Linked DNA regions of Homo sapiens: region 2 is linked to region 1. Evidence: fine-mapped expression QTL. A gene starts in region 1. The other region holds a variant in brackets. All regions are shown on one strand. Distances are between the middles of the regions.

Region 1 (5,223 bases):
GGCAGGAAGATCGCTTGAGCCCAGGAGTTCCAGGCCAGCTTGGGCAACATAGGAAGATCCCGTCTCGAAAGAAAAAGCAAGAAAGCAAAACCCCGGGGAAGATATTAAATAATCCTCATAGACCAATTAAATGCTAAAACTTCCTATCAGGTTCATTAACAGTGTTTAAGAAAAAGACAAAATGTTCTCATGTACAAATTGAACTGCCTATCAGATTATTTTAAGATCTAGTTCTCCAGAATTCCCAAGAAAGTAGGACTCCTATTTGGTTTAGAAACGCTCAATATACTAAGAAACAAAACAGGGACATCTGGCACCGGCTCTATTCGTAAAGGCAACATTCTCTAACAGATTACGCTCACATTCAATTGTAAACTCCACTAACAACTAACAAGCTTCAGGTCAATAGATAACAACACACTGAGAGGCTGAGGAGGACAGATCACTTGAGGCCAGCAGTTTGAGACCAGCCTGGCCAACACAACGAGACTACTATCTCAACTAAAACTACAAAAAATTATCTGGCCGTGGTGGCGCGCGCCTGTAGTCCCAGCTACTCCGTAGGCAGAGGCAACAGAATCGCTTGAACTCGGGAGGCGGAGGTTGCAGTGAGCTGAGATCGCGCAACTGCACTCCAGCCTGAGCGACAGGGCGAGACTCTCTCCAAAACAACAACAACAACAACAACAACAACACATGAAAAAGAAATATAAACAGCCTTAAGATGTCCCCACCCAAGTGCTCAGTCGCACATAAACGCAGGCTGCACATGACATGCATTCAAGACACAATGCTGAGTTTGCTTGATACAAAGCTATAGAAGACAGGATCCCAGCTGACACCAGCAAACTTATTCTAGCTTTCAGGGAAACTCAGATGAAATGCGTCTTTGTGAAATCCCTACTCTAAACTCTCGATTAAACCTGAGCACACTTTGAACGCGACAGTCCGCTCCCTCCTAATCCTTAGAAAGCATTTCCTGCCTGCAAAACCTTTCTCCCGCAAGCCTTCTACAAACTTTTTCCGTTCTTTCAACCTACTCCACGAAGCCTTAAGCCCGCCCCTCACCTCCCGCCCCCTACACACACACACACACACACACACACACACACACACAAACACACCCCTCCCCACTAGGGAACCTCAACACTCTGCAGACGCCACTCCACAAGGACACGCAAAACACATGTGCCTGCAAACCCAGCCCCTTTCCACACCCCCCGGAAACGACACCCCCTTTCTCACACTCCGCACGCCACAGCCCATCCCCCTTCCTCCCCGCCCCCCCTTCACATCACCCCAGTCCTCCCACCCACGTTCCCGGGAACCCAACCTCCCCGCGCTCTCCGACTTGCCGAAGGCAGTGGGGAGGGGAAGCAGGAAGAAGGAAGGAGGGCTCAGGCCCGGCCTAGGCCTCTCAGACCGCCTTGGGAGGTGAGGGGGGGAGCCCGCGGGCCGTGCTCAGCTCCCGTCGGCAGCAGGGCCTCATCCGGCCCAGGCCTGCCCTCCGCCGCCGCGGCCCGCCCCGCCCGAAAAACACTCACTTGCCAGCCGCGGTCCATCGAGTCCCCCGCTACTGCCTCCTCCGCCGGCTGCGGCTCCGGTCCCCGGGTCCCCCAGGTCCGGCTTCTTGGGCCCGGGGGGCGGCCCAGCTCCCCCGCCCGCGACGGCTCCCGGCGGAAAGCCGGCCACGGGTGCACCAGCCAGAGCCAGGGGGACGCTGTTGCTATGGAGGCCGAGGCCCGGGGCAGCCCCGGCGGCAGGGTCCTCATGCAGGAACTGACACTCCTCCCCGTAGAAGCAAGTCTTATCCTTAGCGTAGTAGCGGCAGTACTTCAGCTTCACTCCTACCGCCGCCCCGCCGGGGACACCCCCGACCCCCGGCGGGGCCACCACCGCCACCGCCGCCGCCAGCGAGGAGGAGGAAGGGGAGGCGGCGGCCGAGGGGGGCGGGAGGCCGCCGCCACTGTTCATGGCAACGCCGCAGCCTCGTCTTCCGCCGCCGCCCGAGGAGCCGCCGCCGCCACCACCATAGACGGGGGAGGAAAGGAAGACGCTGCCGGTGCCGGATAAAAGCCTGGGCGGGTGGGTCTGTCCCGCTGCGGGAGCCGGAGCCGCCCGGGGAGAAGGGGGAGGGGAGAGGGGAGGGAGGAGGGGGTAGAAGGAGGGAGGGTAGGGGGAGAGTTGGGATTCTCTCACTCACTCTCTCGTTCTCTTTTCTTAAAGGGGCCGCGCGGGACGACGGGGTGAGCGCGCGGGCCCAGACGGGGACTTCGAGGGCGCGGGCAGGGGAAGAGGGAGCGGCAGCGGCAAGCGGGTGGGGAAGGCGGAGGGGCCGGTTTATTTTTAAATTCTGCCTCCACTCGCTCTCTCGCGCTCTGGTTCCTCCGAGTTGTTTATTCCATTTTCCTCTTCCTGAGACGGCCGTCGCCGCTGCGCGTGCGCGCTGAGACGCGAGGGCTTATGGGTAGCGGGAGCGCTAGGGGAAGCCTGGCCGGCGTCGGGCCCCCGGGGGCATCCGCGAGCTATCGGCGGTTGGACCGGCGGCTCTCGGTGGGGTTCCGGACGCGGATCTGGCGCCGAATTCTCACGAGACCTGATACCTTCCTTATTTGTATATTCTCTTACTTAAAAAGCCAGATGTCTTTTTTTTTTTTTTCATTGAAAAGAGAAAATTGACAAGGTAAACGGTCGTTTGGAGGGGCCACCTGGGGACGCGGCCCGAGCCCTGGCTCTACCTGAAGAATATCTTCTATTTGCCACACTTCCTCTCCCCGTTTCCTTTCTTCGCCCCTCTCCTCTTTCCCCTTCCCCTCGAAGGTAATGAGAACTACTGGACCGATTACGCTAACCTCTTGGCCCTTTGTCAAAAAATGGAGCCAAAAAGGTTGATTTAGACAGACCCCCTGCTCAGTGCAGCACCTGTTATTCTCTGTATTTATATTACCAAGGGCCTTCGGTAAATTATGAAAAATAGGATGCCACCTGGGACAACACTGCTTAGACAGCACTGGAAGACCTTTATAAATATACTAGGTTGCTTTTCTCCAATCAGCCTAGCCTTGATTTGAAATTCATTTTTATTTTTTTTGAGACGGTGAAATTCATTTTTAAAAGATAGTTTTAACCTCAGCGATCTCTGATGTTTGCGCTAATACCCTTTTAAAGGCTTTCAGAAATTTTAAAGAATTGCTATGAAAGGAAAAGTAACATTCTAGTTTTTCTCTGTAAAAGAGGTTCACAAACGGCAGATCGCTGTTATGAAAAGGAGGGGTGGAAGTATTTAAGGAATTGTGGCAAACAAAGTCACAGAAGAATGGATATAAGCAAAAGTAGCACACTGAAAAAAATGGGGAAAAGTGGAGTCTAGATCACAAACTGGTAAGCTTGGTGATGTTCTCTAGCCAAATTCGAAGGTAATAACATTGTATTATGGCTTTCTGTTTAAAAGCAGTTTCGCTTATTTGATTATTCAACAAATCTTTATTAACACGCATTACGTGTACCAGAAACTGTGGTACACTTAACTGTGGAGCTGGGGAAGCAAAAGTGAACATGCCGCCTTAAGTGAGTTCAGATGGCTTATCTTCCGGTTGGGGAGGCATCAAGTACACAGGTCCGTTGTAAACCAGTGTCTTAAGTGCTAACCTTATCACATTTGCTATTAGAGGATATTAAACATGTCAGACTTCTTGGAGAAAGTTGATATTTTCATGTTCCAAGTTTGGGAACATCATTGAATTCAGACAGATCTGGATTGAAACAGATTAAAGTGCCTACACTTTAATAGCTGTGTTCCTCTCAGTTAATTGCTTCATTTCTCTGTGCCTTGTCTGTACACCTGGATTAAGAATAGTACCTACTTCATAAAGTATAACTAATAATGTATATAAACTGTCCCATGCCTAATAAGAATTCGGTAGGTTGTAACTATTATTAATAGTATTGGCCAGGCGCAGTGGCTCACGCCTGTAATCCCAGCACTTTGGGAGGCCAAGGCGGGTGGATCACCTGAGATCAGGAGTTCGAGACCAGTCTGGCCAACCTGGTAAAACACCGTCTCTACAAAAATACAAAAAAATTACTGGGCGTGGTGGCGAGCGCCTGTGATCCCAGCTACTGGGGAGGCTGAGACATAAGAATCACTTGAACCTGGGAAGCAGAGGTTGCAGTGAGCCGAGATCTCGTCATTGCACGCCAGCCTGGGCGACAGAGCGAGACTCCATCTCGAAAAAAAAGTAGTATTGCTGCTAGTGGTAGTCAGTGTATAGTCAAAGAGCATTCTAGGCAAACAGCTTTTATTGTTAGAATACAGTGATAGTGGAAAATGGAGCAGAGTCCACAAAAGTCCTTGTAGGGCCATGTTAAAGAATTGAACTTTTGGCCAGGCGCAGTGGCTCACGCCTGTAATCCCAGCACTTTGGGAGGCTGAGGCGAGCAGATCACGAGGTCAGGAGTTCAAGACCAGCCTGGCCAACATGGTGAAACCCCCGTCTCTGCTAAAAATACAAAAATTAGCTGGGTGTGGTAGCAGGCACCTGTAATCTCACCTACTCGGGAGGCTGAGACAGAAGAATTGCTTGAACCCGGGAGGCAGAGGTTGCAGTGAGATCGCACCACTGCACTCTAGCCTGGGCGACAGAGCAAGGCTCCATCTCAAAAAAAAAAAAAAGAATTGAACTTTTTCTTGAGGACAATTGGAAGTTATTACAGGGTTTTTAAAAGTCAACATGGCAGGGCACAGTGGCTCACACCTCTAACCTCACTGCTTTGGAAGGAAGCCAAGGCAAGAGGATCACTTGAGGCCGGGAGTTCAAGACCCTCTTGGGAAAACTAGCAAGACCCTGTCTATACAAAACAATTTAAAAATTAGCCAGGTGTAGAGGCACTTGCCTATAGTCCTAGCTACTGGGGAGGCTGAGGCAGAGGATCATTTGGGCTCAGGAGTTCCAGGATGCAGTGAGCTTTGAAGGCGCCATTTTATGCCAACCTGCACAGCAGTGAGACCCTCTCGGTCAATAAATAAAAAATAAACTTATTTGCCACACATTTCATATCTCCACACTTTTTTAGGAGACAACTACTTATTCCTATAGTAGGGTTGTCTTTTTAAGCAGGGTTCATTGTTGAGTATTCCTTTACTAAAAATAAATATGTAGTCAACTCTAAGTTATTTTCATGTTAATGAAGATTACATCCAAAACTGCAAATAATCCATAAATT
Region 2 (5,223 bases), 150 kb before region 1:
CTATCAAAAACAAACAAAAATCATGTATAACAACATCACACTGCTTTATCACAGAGAAAGGTTCAACATTCTATAATCCCTGCCCTCACAAAGGCTTCCCATTGGCTTTTTAGGACCTTATTTTTAATACAAATGGACAGCTAAGTATCAGAAATCTTTTGTTACAAAACAAAACAAAATAAAGCAAACTCTTGTTTCCTATGAGATACTGCAGGGAATGGAACAAAACTTAAAACTAAGACAAACAAAAACCAACCACCAGCAAAAATCTATTAACTGACGGCCTCAGAGAAACAAGAATTAGATGGTACAAGACAAACATTCAGAAAACAGAATTGTTCTTGGAAAATAAAAATATGATAGCAGAAATTTAAAAATTCAAAGAATTAGAAAAAAAACTTTAATTTTAGAAAAATGCAGTTGAGATAACTGCCCAGAAAGTAGAACAAAAAAAATTAGAGATAGAAAATAGAAGAGAATATTTGAAAATCAATTGCAAAGGTCTAACATCTGAGCGATGAGAATTCCAGGACAAGAAGTTATTAAAGAAACAATGAAGACCATGTCCCAGAACTGAAGGACGTTAAGTTTCCAAGATTAAAGGGGTTCACCTGTTAATCCATCATTATGACTCAAAACCTACACCAAGGAACATCACTGTGAATTTCTGAACATCAGTGACTAAACAAACAAACAAACAAACAAACAAAACCCAAAAGCTTGGAGGAAGGAAAGGATTTATAAAGAAAATGCCTTTGAATCTGCCTGGAAGTTAAAAGGAACAATGCTTCAAATTCTGAACTATCATCACTAGTACTTACCTATGTACTGAAAGTACCCGCTAACACAACCACTCAAGAGAAATTAAAAGTATAGAAACTGGGAAGGAAACTATCATTATTTGCAGATAACACCTGGGAAACTCAAAGAGAATTTACTGAAAACGACCCAAACAATAAGGTACCAGAGCATAAAATTTAAAGAAATCAAGAATTCTCATATATACCAGTAACAAGAAGACAGAATGGGGGAAATTTTCCCACTTATAATAGCAACAAGATGAAATACCTAAGAATACACTCAGTATTGCTATAACTATATAAAGAACAACTTAAATACTACTGAAGAATACAAAAGTAGACATCAACAAATAGAATGACATACCATGATCTTGGTTACGATGACTCAACATCTAAAATCACAAATGTTCCCAGAGTTTAAACACGATAAATATGCTATCTTCCCTATGAAGAAACCATCAGGTTTATTGATTTTTTTTTAACTAAAGAAGCTGATTCTAGAATTTGTACAGAAAATTTAATAGTATTAGGAAAACAACAAAGTGGTGCCCAATGAAATGGAGATGGGAAAGAATACTGCTAGATTTCAAAATTCAATTTCATGATTGAATTAAAATAGTATGGAAGAGGTGTGGCTTCAAAAACCAGTGGGGAAAAGCTAGATTGTTCGACTATTCAATAAACAGCTTTTGGACTACTAGGTAGTCTTGGGGACAAGGGGAGATGGACTTACACCTTACACCCTATACAATTTCTAACCACATAAAACATTTTTAATATGAAGAAATGAAACCACAAATGTTCTGGAAAAAACCATGAAATAGTTCCTTCATAATCTTGGAGTAGAAAGAGGCTTTCTAACTATGATTCAAAATCCAGAAGCAAAGAAGAAATTTGGTCAGTTACAGACATATACAAATGTCTCCAAGGGTGGGGAATGAGCAGTCAAAAAAAAAAAAAAAATCACAAAAAGAGTGAATCTCTTTAGCTCTTATATATCAATAAGAAAGACAAGCAATCCAATTGAAAATAAAAATGGGCAAAGGATATGAATTGAACAGGACATAAGAATGGATCAATAGCATAAAACAGACCCTCAAACATGCTTGTTAAGAGTACATAGAACATAAAACTGCATTTAAATTCAATTTTTCACCTACAAGGTTGACAAAAATCTAAGAGTTTGAAAAAAGTATTTTGGTGAGGCAGTCTCACGAATTACACACATGGGTAAACTATTCTCCAATAGCTATGAAATTATAGTGGCACACCTACTGACCTAGCAATCACAATTGGCCTATATTTACATATATATAAGATTAAGTATGCACAAGTTAGTCCCTACAGTACCGCCCACCCTAGCAAAGGACTGAAAACAGCCCAAATGCCCACCTATAGGGAACTGGGGAATAAACTATAACACATCCATAGGATAAACTACTACCAGGCCATTAAAGTATGAGGAGACACATAGCATAGTGGTTAGGAGCACACACTCTGGAACCATACTGTCTAGACTGGAGTCCTGGATCATATACTTATTAATTACGCAACCTTTGTTCAAGTTATTTAACCTCTCTATGCTGCAATTACTCTGTTAAATAGGAATAACAATGGTAACTCCATCATAGGGTTGTTATGAGGAATAAGTCAGGTCATATTTGTAAACTATTTTGAATAGTGCTTGGCATATACTAAACATATCTAAATAGAAAGATTTCTAAAACACGCTGTTATGATAAAATATACTGTGTATGGTTTACAATTTTTATATATTTAAAGGGGGAGGGGATAAGAATATATAGTTGTATTTGTAACTCTGGAATAATACAGAAGAAACTAAAAATATAGACTGATGGGGGAAACTGGGAATAGATATTGGGGATGTCAGGTATGAAAGAGAGACTTTTACAGTTTTCACTGCAAACTTTTCCTACTTTTTACTTTATTCATAGACAACCTATTTAAAAAATTTAATTAATAAGAATAATTTCCTGGCTGGGCACAGTGACTCATGCCTGTAATCCTAGCACTTTGGAAGGCTGAGGCAGGTGGATCACCTGAGGTCAGGAGTTCGAGACCAGCTTGGACAACATGGTGAAACCCTGTCTCTACCAAAAATACAAAAATTAGCTGGGCATGGTGGCATGCGCCTGTAATCCCAGCTACACTGGAAGCTGAGGCAGGAGAATCGCTTGATCCTGGGAGGCGAGGGTTGCAGAGAGCCAAGAATGCGCCATTGCACTCCAGCCTGGGGGA[T/C]AGAGCGAGATTCCCTCTCAAAAAAAAAAAGGAAAAATTTTCTGAGGACAATCTAGAATTTAGTATGCATTCACAGTATCAATAATGTGTGAAAGTAGAATAATGCCATTTTCAAACTTGCAAGACTAAAAAAACTCACCTTTTTCAGGAAGCTACAAGGACATGCTCCATTAAGTCAAAATAAATAAATAAATAAATAAATAAACAAACCAAGGAATAAAGCAAGAAAACAGGGTATCCAACACAGAGAGATAATGAGAATTCCCAGATAATACTGAAGGGAAGTTCCAGTTCTAAAGTGTAAGCACGTGCAGGCTTAAAGCATAACCAGCCCAGATAGGAACAGGAAGTGCAGAGGATCCAGAGCCAATTCTCTAGGTGGGAGGGAAAAAAAGGAACTGATAGGTTACCTATTTTTGACCGCATGGGAGAGGTGTTTTGTAACACTAAATACAGATTCAACTCATGTGTGCATGTGTGTGTGCACGTGCGTGCACGTGTGTAGGGAAGAGGATGAGTCATTAGCTGAATTATATATTGGGGGAATCAAGAATAGAACTATAAGCAGACATTTTAAAGTAAAGAGATAAATGCTAGAAGAAACAGCTAAAAGTTTATTAAAAATGGTTTAACATATATTGTTATGTTCTCTTCACTTAGAAAAATTATTAGGGAAGACACTAAATGAGTCTTTCGACTTTGAAGAAAAGCAAGTGGACTTGAATTCCATGGTAAAAAAAAAAAACAACCCCTCAAGTAATAGTATTTATCTCTCACCTATCTCTATTAACAAATCAAACATTCCTGAAATGTAACTTACGTATATAGTCATAGTAATTGCAAATTCTGTTCTACCTGTCTTTGACAGTTATGTAGTACAAACATCGACTCTGCTTATGTATATATGGTTAACATTAACTTACAAATGAGGTGGAACTAAGTGACAAATAGTGTAAAAGGTAATGCCTTTCCAATGTCACTTATATGATGGCTATAAAAAGTATACTTTAGGCCAGGCGTGGTGGCTCATGCCTGTAATCCCAGCACTTTGGGAGGCCAAGGCAGGTGGATCACCTGAAGTCAGGAGTTCAAGACCAGACCACCCTGGCCAACATGGTGAAACCCTATCTCCACTAAAAATACAAAAATTAGCTGGGTATGGTGGTGCACACCTGTAGTCCCAGCTACTTGGGAGGCTGAAGCAGGAGAATCGCTTGAACCTGGGAGGCAGAGGTTGCAGTCAGCCGAGATTGTGCCACTGCACTCCAGCCTGGCGACAGAGGGAGACTCCGTCTCAAGAAAAAAAAAAAAAAAAAAAAGTGTGCTTTAATAGAAGGTAAGAGGCATGCAAAAATTAGAGATTTCTCAAGTCTCTAAACTGACCAGGGTAAACTTACATGAAACTTCTTCCTCAAAAAGAAGATAGGGTAGAGGTAGTATTAGTCATAAAATGTGCCCTCATGTGCAAACCACAAGAGATTTCTAACACACCATATTTTCTGTGTGTATACATGTGTGTAAAATTCGTAAGGACAGCCACACCTAGGCTGTTGTTAAAAATAGCACCTTAACAGCTAACACAATCTTAAGGTCACTTCACATGAGAATTTTTCTCTTTTTCCAAATAAAGCCAGGCATACTTATTCTTATTATGCAAAATAGTGCTCTCGATTAAAAATATATTGTAAAATACTGTAAATCCTTACTCCGGCCTCTCATTGATTGTTCCCAATTTTGCTAGGAGCCTAAACAGTCTTCCATTTTGAACCTCCTATAAAACATTTTAAAAAGAGAAAAATGTTAATGTTCCAGATAACTGAACATAAAAGCCAAAATTTACAAAAACTGGTAACCTGTACCAATATTACCTTTAAACAATAAATCCTAACATCCCCACCTTTTGGTTATACTTTTAAACAAACACAATATGTCCATTTCATTTCATAATGGTACTCAAGAAGATTATGGAGCTGTCCATAGGAATTGGAAAAGTAACTCACATGAAAAACCAAGATTTTTGTCACATGACTGTAGCAAAGCCATGAATGAAAAGAACAGTGTTGTCCAGAGGACATAAGAAATTAAAATACCAAACATTCAGTGCCGACAAAAATATCTGAAATCTTAGCAAATAAGGCATTATATTTAGTACAATGATTATTTT

What was found. PIP is the estimated chance that this variant, and not a neighbour inherited with it, causes the effect. A credible set is the group of variants that fine-mapping cannot tell apart.
Region 2: its variant is the best candidate, but not a certain one, in a credible set for the expression of PAN3 in whole blood (TOPMed, PIP 0.88).

The regions. Positions count from the first base shown.
Region 1 is chr13:28,135,409-28,140,631 of GRCh38, reverse strand. It overlaps PAN3 (poly(A) specific ribonuclease subunit PAN3), which reads right to left and starts at 2,087. Exons shown (of 19, transcript NM_175854.8): 1 at 1,545-2,087. The coding sequence starts at 1,974. PAN3-AS1 (PAN3 antisense RNA 1) reads left to right here and starts at 1,458. Exons shown (of 2, transcript NR_029383.1): 1 at 1,458-2,085; 2 at 2,227-3,789. RefSeq lists an enhancer at 1,046-1,340 and silencers at 1,423-1,822, 1,863-1,942, 2,133-2,242.
Region 2 is chr13:28,280,922-28,286,144 of GRCh38, reverse strand. It overlaps PAN3 (poly(A) specific ribonuclease subunit PAN3), which reads right to left. Exons shown (of 19, transcript NM_175854.8): 17 at 4,766-4,830. It overlaps LOC124903140 (a long non-coding RNA gene), which reads left to right. Exons shown (of 2, transcript XR_007063735.1): 1 at 1-3,790. Among named protein-coding and RNA genes, the nearest start is that of PAN3-AS1, 140 kb to the right of the region's middle. The variant T/C (reference allele first, on the strand shown) is at 3,060.